Linked DNA regions of Homo sapiens. The protein of the gene in region 2 purifies or fractionates together with the protein of the main gene of each other region. This does not show direct contact. Each region holds a gene or a part of one and is shown on either strand. Other genes may lie near its edges.

Region 1 (3,500 bases), on a different chromosome or scaffold from region 2:
ATTACTGCTAGCTAAATGAGAAATTTAGAAGGATCTAAGAGAAAATCTGGGTATGTACCTTAGGGGTATCTAAGAATTCTACTGATTAACAGTAATTCTTTCCAGTAAGTATATATTTTTATAATGTCCTAAAATCCAGTAATTTAATTACTCTACATATCATTTCTAAAGGTCAATATACCTAACTAGAAGTATACCAACAAAGAATATTCTCTTTGACATCTTTAAAATTCTTATTCTTTATATATACAGCAACATCAGAAGATCACATTCATGTCACTCTAGCTTGAAATTAACCCTATCTATATCAGTTACCTATGTTAGCACATCTTATAAATCTTACCCTTAACCTATAGGTTTATTAGTTATACTTTATAGTCTTTGGGATGTAGATCAAATATAAACAAATATAAAGAATATTTTAAAAACCTTGAAAAGGTAAGTCAAGTTTTTAATACTTAAAATTCTAAAATACACTTAAAAAACCCTAAAAACCTATAAAAATAATACCCAAAGTATGCATTTCACTTACTAAGTTAATGTAGTTGCTCTTATTTCTTCAAGATAGTGCCTCAATGAATGTTTAATCATAACCCCAAAATATTTTTCTTCCTTGGACTGTAAATATTTAAATACCCACTGCTAAAATTACATTAGCAGATACAGTTATTAGCAAAAACTAATATTAAATTCAGCTATTTAGAATAATCAGAATTTTTTACAAAAGTTTTTAACAATGTTAAACACATCCTTACTTCGATCACAGTTTTCTATTGCTTGGGCAGCTTGTGATGGTTTTAAGTATCGTACGTAGCCCAAACCTTTACTTTCTCCAGTCACTTTATTCTTAATAATGCTGCAATACTCGATATCTCCATACACCTAAGAGAGTTAAAAGACATGATTTTAGGGGACTTAAAATTAATTGAACAGAGTATTTCAGAACTAAAAATTTGTTTATATGTGACCCTTGCATGCAAACAAAGAAATAGGCAGTATAAAATATGCAGATATTGCATATTTGTATTTGCAAATATGCTTATTTCATAGATAAGGAAGCTGGGCTTTAGAGAAATCAAAGAGGGACAAAGTCACAGAAGAGTAAGAATTTGTACATGGTCTGGATAGCTCCAAAGTCTTGCTCAACAGTGGTTAAGAGCCAGAGCTCTGGAATTAAACTTTCTAGATTGAAATCCTGAATCAACCACTCATTAATTAGGCAGTTTACTTATTCTCTCTGTGCCTACCTCTTTATTAAAGAGGCTAGCAGTAGTATCTACCTCACAGGGTTGTTTAAGGGTTAACTGAAGTAAAACATGTGAAGTGCTTACATGGGGCTTGGAACATACTCAAAGAACATTAGCTATTATTACTTGTCTGTCTTCTAACAGGAACATAAATGATTGTGTATTCTTTTGAAGGAGTGCTTTTCAAAGGGTATTTCTAAAATATGCTGGTTCACTCAGAAAGTTACTATTCTGAGAAACATGCAGTAGTGTTTACTTTCAATGTTCAAAGAAATATGGAATATAATTGGTATTTATTATTTATTTTATAAATTCTTATGTAATCAATTAGCAACTTAATTACTATACATTAAAGTGTTATATTTGTTCATTCAGGAAAAGAAAAATTTATAAATATTTAAGGTAAAAAACATTTTCCTTACTACTGGAGGATGTATAAAATATACGTTTTTGGTATTTGTTATTTTTGAAGTATTTCATTGAATTCTCAATTGGGGTAGGAGAGAAAGTTTGAAAATTACTTTTTACTGCTTGTTTTCTTTCTTGCTTGTTGCCACCCAATTCATGGGAGGATTAGTAGAAAAAAGATAAAAAACTACAATTCAAAACAATTAAAAAATTGCTTTTTAATAATTTGTGTGAAAGCTCATCACTGCATAAGTTAATGGCTAAAAAGACATAAAATTATCCTCAAATTTCACTTATATAGGTCAGAGCTATATTTACGTTTTCTTCTTTAAATATAATTCCTTCAAAGGCCCAATTTTAGGACAAAAACTCTTCAAAGAATAAGCCTTTCTGTGAATGAGTACCATGTCAACACACCATAGGCCCGTTCTCAATACTAGATAATACAGTTCACACACTCAGGTCTGCCTGATTCGCCTCTACATGCCAGGCAATAGAGGGGAGTGATAAAAGCGTGCTTTGAAATTTTAAAGACCAAGAGCAGGCTCCAGACTCCGACAGCCTGGGTTTAAATCATAGCTCTACCACCTACTAGTTGTGTGACTTTACTTAAAAGTTTCTGAGCTTTATGCTTCATTTCTGCGAATCTCTACTTTCACAATAAAGTAGGGAGAGACTACCATTACTATTTTCCAGCTTTTATATATTCTTTAATTTTAAAAACTAATTTATGCTAGGTTTAATATTTAAAGAGTAGATTGAAATTGATGAAAGCAGTTATGTAATTCCCCAAGACTACTCTATTGACCTTATTCCAACAACATTTCAGATTTAGTACCCATACAACCTATGCAGGACTATGAGTTATCACATATGCTAGCTGATTAGAATAAATACCTTAAATTTTTCCCGCAGATCTTCTTCTGTGTAGGACTTTGGTATCATAACAAAGATTCTTGTAAGTTCTTCATCTTCAACATCTCGGTGACTTCCAGATGATCGGGACTGAGCAATGAAAACCTAAGAAACAAACAAAACTCCCAAAATAAAATAATGTCAACTATTTTCCCATTTCTTAAATTTTTTCAAAAGCAATTATTCTTGCAATGACTTTTTTTTAATCTTTGAGACAGGGTCTCAAAGAAAAAAAAAAGCAGGCTGCAGTGCAGTGGTGTGATCATGGCTCACGGCAGTCTCAACATTCTAGGCTCAAGTGATCCTCCCACCTCAGCCTCCCAAGTAGCTGGGACCACAGGCACACACCACCACACCCAGCTAATTTTTTAATATTTGTAGAGACAAGGTCTTGCTATGTTGTCCAGGATGGTCATGAATTCCTGGGCTCAAGTGATCCTCCCACTTTGACCTTCCAAAGTGCTGGGATTACAGGTGTGAGCCACTGTGCTGGGCCTGCAATGACTTTTTTTTATGAGATAATACCAATCTCTGCATTGTGTTTTTCCCAAATGTATTTCTACTTTTGCATTTATTTTTAGCCAGAGTAATTTGAAGAAACGTAATACAATTAATTAAAACACCATAAACAAGGGCACTTGCATTGTTTGTTTCTTTTTCCTTTAAAGGGGTCTCTATATCTTGGTCTCTGATCCACTGCTGGTAAAGGGGGCTCTGTATCATTAAAGCATGAGAAAACTGGAACTTATGAAATTCCACAGTAGGAAGCAGCAACCAAGAAAACCACAGTGTTAGAGACATATCCCTTTATAGTCTACTTCTAGTTATTCCTTCAATAAATCTATACTATATGTCAAGCACCATATGAGTACAACTATTGAGTAACATGGAAATGGCCCACTAGAGTCTTGTGGCTGATATCAGTAATAA
Region 2 (3,500 bases):
TTGTTTAACCTAGAACATTTTGAGGTAAGCATCACTATCCTCCCTGCATAGAAGAAACAGGCACAGAGTAGTTAAGTCACTTTGGTTATTCATTCAAAATGGTGTGGCTGCTGAGTACCTACTAAGTGCCAAAGACTGTCTTAGGGGATGGGATACTGCCATGACATGAATATCTGCCATGAATAAAGCAGACAAGGCTCTCCTCTCATGGAGCTCATACCCCATGATGGAAGACACATTCAGAAGTTGAAATATACTACAAAAAAAAAAAAAAAAAAAAAAGCAAAAAGCCAAGTAGAGATTCTTAGAGTTAATATATAAACTAAGAAAGAAAAAAAGATCCAGCCATACAAATATCTAAGGAAAGATATTCTCTTTCTATGGGCACAAGAAGCACACAGGCCCCAAGGAGGCCTAATAACTTTGAAAAAGACAATAACTAGAATACAGAAACTGAGGATGGGTGGTAACTAATGAGGTCAATGAGGCAGATAAGGAGATCTTAGAGGGCTTTGGGGGCCAAATTAAGGAAACTGGCTCTTAAGGAAGTAGGAAAAACAGGATGGGGGAAAGAGGGTTTGAACAAGGAAGGACCATGCACCAACTTAAGTGACTGTGCATGGTCACAAAACTGATTAGAAGAACTGAGCGCAGAACAAAGCCTATATTTTTAACCTCTCTGTGAAACTCAAAATAAAGGACAAAAGCTTAAAACCCAATTTTATGTACAAAGATGTTCATTGCCAAAAAATCCACGTAACAATCCATTAACAAGGAATTGGTTAAATACATTATCATATATCTGTATAATGGAATATTATAGCCATTTAAGAAAACAAGAGACAACAGTACTTACCTCTAGAGTGAGAAAATGTTCCCATTATAAATATTGACATTATAAAGTTGTGAAAGCAGTTAGGCATAATTGTACACATTCATATACTTAATGTTAACTACATACATGCGTGAATTTTATAACTAAAAACTAGTCTTAAGTTTTTGATATACAGTTACTAGTTTTACAGACTTGTAGTATCCTACCACTATTAATGACAAGGAACAGCAGAAAGGCAAAGGTACGGGTCCCAGCTGAAAGTACTAATTTCCTGTTTCCATCAAATGTCATTCTTCGTGGCAAAAATGCTGCTTAGAGCGCTGATTTGCAATCTTTTTTTTTTTTTTTTTAAAGTCAACAGAACTCTCTTTTAAGAAAATGTAAAATCTGATCAGTAAAAGAAGAAAGTAGAACTGCTCTGAATATAGCAGAACAGAGGATCCAGAGCCTGCCATTTTAAGCAAAAAAAGGAGGCATAGAGTATTTGGAACAGACAGGCACTCCAACGTGTTTGAATCAAAGCCTGCATTACTTCTCTAGCACCAGATTTTTTAAAGCCACAAATTTCTTCAGTCTTCAATGTGGAGTCAAATGGCTTCCAAACAGAGATATTTTCAAGTTTTATTTTTCTTAGAATTCTATGGGAGATTGGGAGAAATAGAAAATGTACTTTTTCATGGTAGGTACTCTATATACATTGTCAAGAGATGAGAACCTATTACAGAACCGTGGGAATAAAAGAAAACTGATCAGACACTACAGAGAGTGAATATAGTCACGACTACTTTAGCTAGCTGGATTGAATTAAGGCAAGGGTGTGCAGGAGAGGTGAGTCAATATGCCACCAAGTTCTTAGTGTAAGCAGCTAGTTAGAAGAGATTCGCATGAGATAAATAATTCTTACACTGTGTATAGATTTTATACTTGCATTTGAATGTGAGGTCCTCAAGAAGTGGTCAAATAAATGAAAATGTATGCCTAGAGTTCACTAGAGTTCAAAGGAATAATTAGATGTCAGGGTTATTAGCACATAAATAAGTGATAGATTCTATGGAATAGGCGGGATTAGCAAAGGAGGTAATAAAATGGAAGAAAGAACGTCACCAACTGTCATCTGAGGGGAAAAGGAATGATCTGCAAGTTGGGAGGATAAAGTACTGCCACAGAAGCCAAAGAGGTAGGGGAGAAGAGATGCTCATAACAACAAATGCTACAGAATAAATTCATAGGTTGAAATCTGGAAGAGAATTATCATTGCAGAGTCTCGGGAGTGAAGGAGATTATACTCAGAGAGAAAAAAGAACAAAACTAGTACCTCAAATACTTAGTTCTTAAAACAATGGGAGGGAGCTTCTGATAGACTAAAAAGGTACCTTTGCACCTAGCACAGGACCTGGCACATGGGGATTTATAAACTGAATAGATCCTACAGTGCTCAAAGTTTTAAAATGAGATTTAGGAAGATAAATTTAAAAATCGGAAGAACATCAGTCACAAAAATAGTATCAATACAATTAGGGAGATCAGACTGCAGAGGTCTGAACAGTGAGAGACAGTGAATAATTTTACCTATTGGAGAATGATACTACTGCAAGGCAGAACAAAAACTGGGAAGTAACTTGAAGAGGGATTCTCTTAGAAAAAAAGCTCGTTTTTTTGCAGGGGAGGAAGGGGACTTCTGTCTCTTCATCAATGCTTTATGAATTCCTATGTTAAATTTTTGGCTCTGGTAAGTGAACTGTGACAAATATTCAAGGCATAATGGTTTGTCTGAGAAGAAATAATGGCCAGGGATAAATGGATATAGCAACTCACTGGTAAGAAGACATGGAAAGTAGGAAATTCTAGCAGCAGGATTAGAGGAAGAACTGAAGATAAAAGGGCTTGGTGCCTTGAAAGAGTTAAGAAAGCACAGCAGAAGACTACCATAAAGGCTGTTAGAAAAAGGATACCAGGAAATAGATTTTCATGTGTAGAACAAAAGCAGATTCAATAAATGTCTGCAAACTGAGCCAGGAGACTACTAGAATAGAGACTCCATGAAGACAGGAATTTCTGTCCATTTTGTTTGTTGCTGTATCACCGGTGCTTGACTCATGATAAGTACTTGACTATTTGTTGAATGAGTGAATGTAGCTAACTTTGGATTATGGCTACTAAAAGGAAATGTTTCCTTTGCAACAAGAGCTTATCCTAAGAGTCGGGGGAAAAAAGGATCCTGCTGTTCTATGACTAATTGGATTGAGAAAAACTCTCTTAGCCTTAACTATGGGTAAAGATTAGGGTAAACCAGTAAGGCTAGAGAATATACCAGAACAGGGGTAGTAAGCCTGAATGCCTGTAGAATTCAGGTAGATTACAAATGAATGAAATAAGCCAGAAAGCAAATTAGAGCTCACAGACTCCATCTAAAGAGAATGCCTCTACTCAGCTCCAACCAATTTTTGCTGTATCAAAATGCCAGTCCACTAAGGCCAGATTTTATGACAAACCAGAACATTCAAGTTTCTAATATCTAATTTAGGTATTGGTTAATTAAATAAAACAACTTAAAGAAAAAACAAACCCATTCAGGGCTAGAGAAGACACCTGCAGGCCACACAGGTTTCCAGGTGCCAGGCTGCAATCTGTTTTGGTAAATTGAGCACAGGAGGTGCTGATCTAT

Evidence for each region. Proteins that work in one complex are often made in the same cells at the same time.
Region 1: the proteins of PAIP1 (region 2) and RBM45 purify together in Homo sapiens (affinity purification with mass spectrometry; 2 studies listed by BioGRID and IntAct, with this or other methods). This does not show direct contact.

The regions. Positions count from the first base shown.
Region 1 is NC_000002.12:178,115,437-178,118,936, reverse strand, and holds part of RBM45 (RNA-binding protein 45), read right to left. Parts: intron 2,676-3,500; coding exon 2,553-2,675; intron 883-2,552; coding exon 756-882; intron 1-755. UniProt on the Homo sapiens protein: RNA-binding protein with binding specificity for poly(C). May play an important role in neural development.
Region 2 is NC_000005.10:43,550,578-43,554,077, forward strand, and holds part of PAIP1 (polyadenylate-binding protein-interacting protein 1), read right to left. Parts: intron 1-3,500. UniProt on the Homo sapiens protein: Acts as a coactivator in the regulation of translation initiation of poly(A)-containing mRNAs. Its stimulatory activity on translation is mediated via its action on PABPC1. Competes with PAIP2 for binding to PABPC1.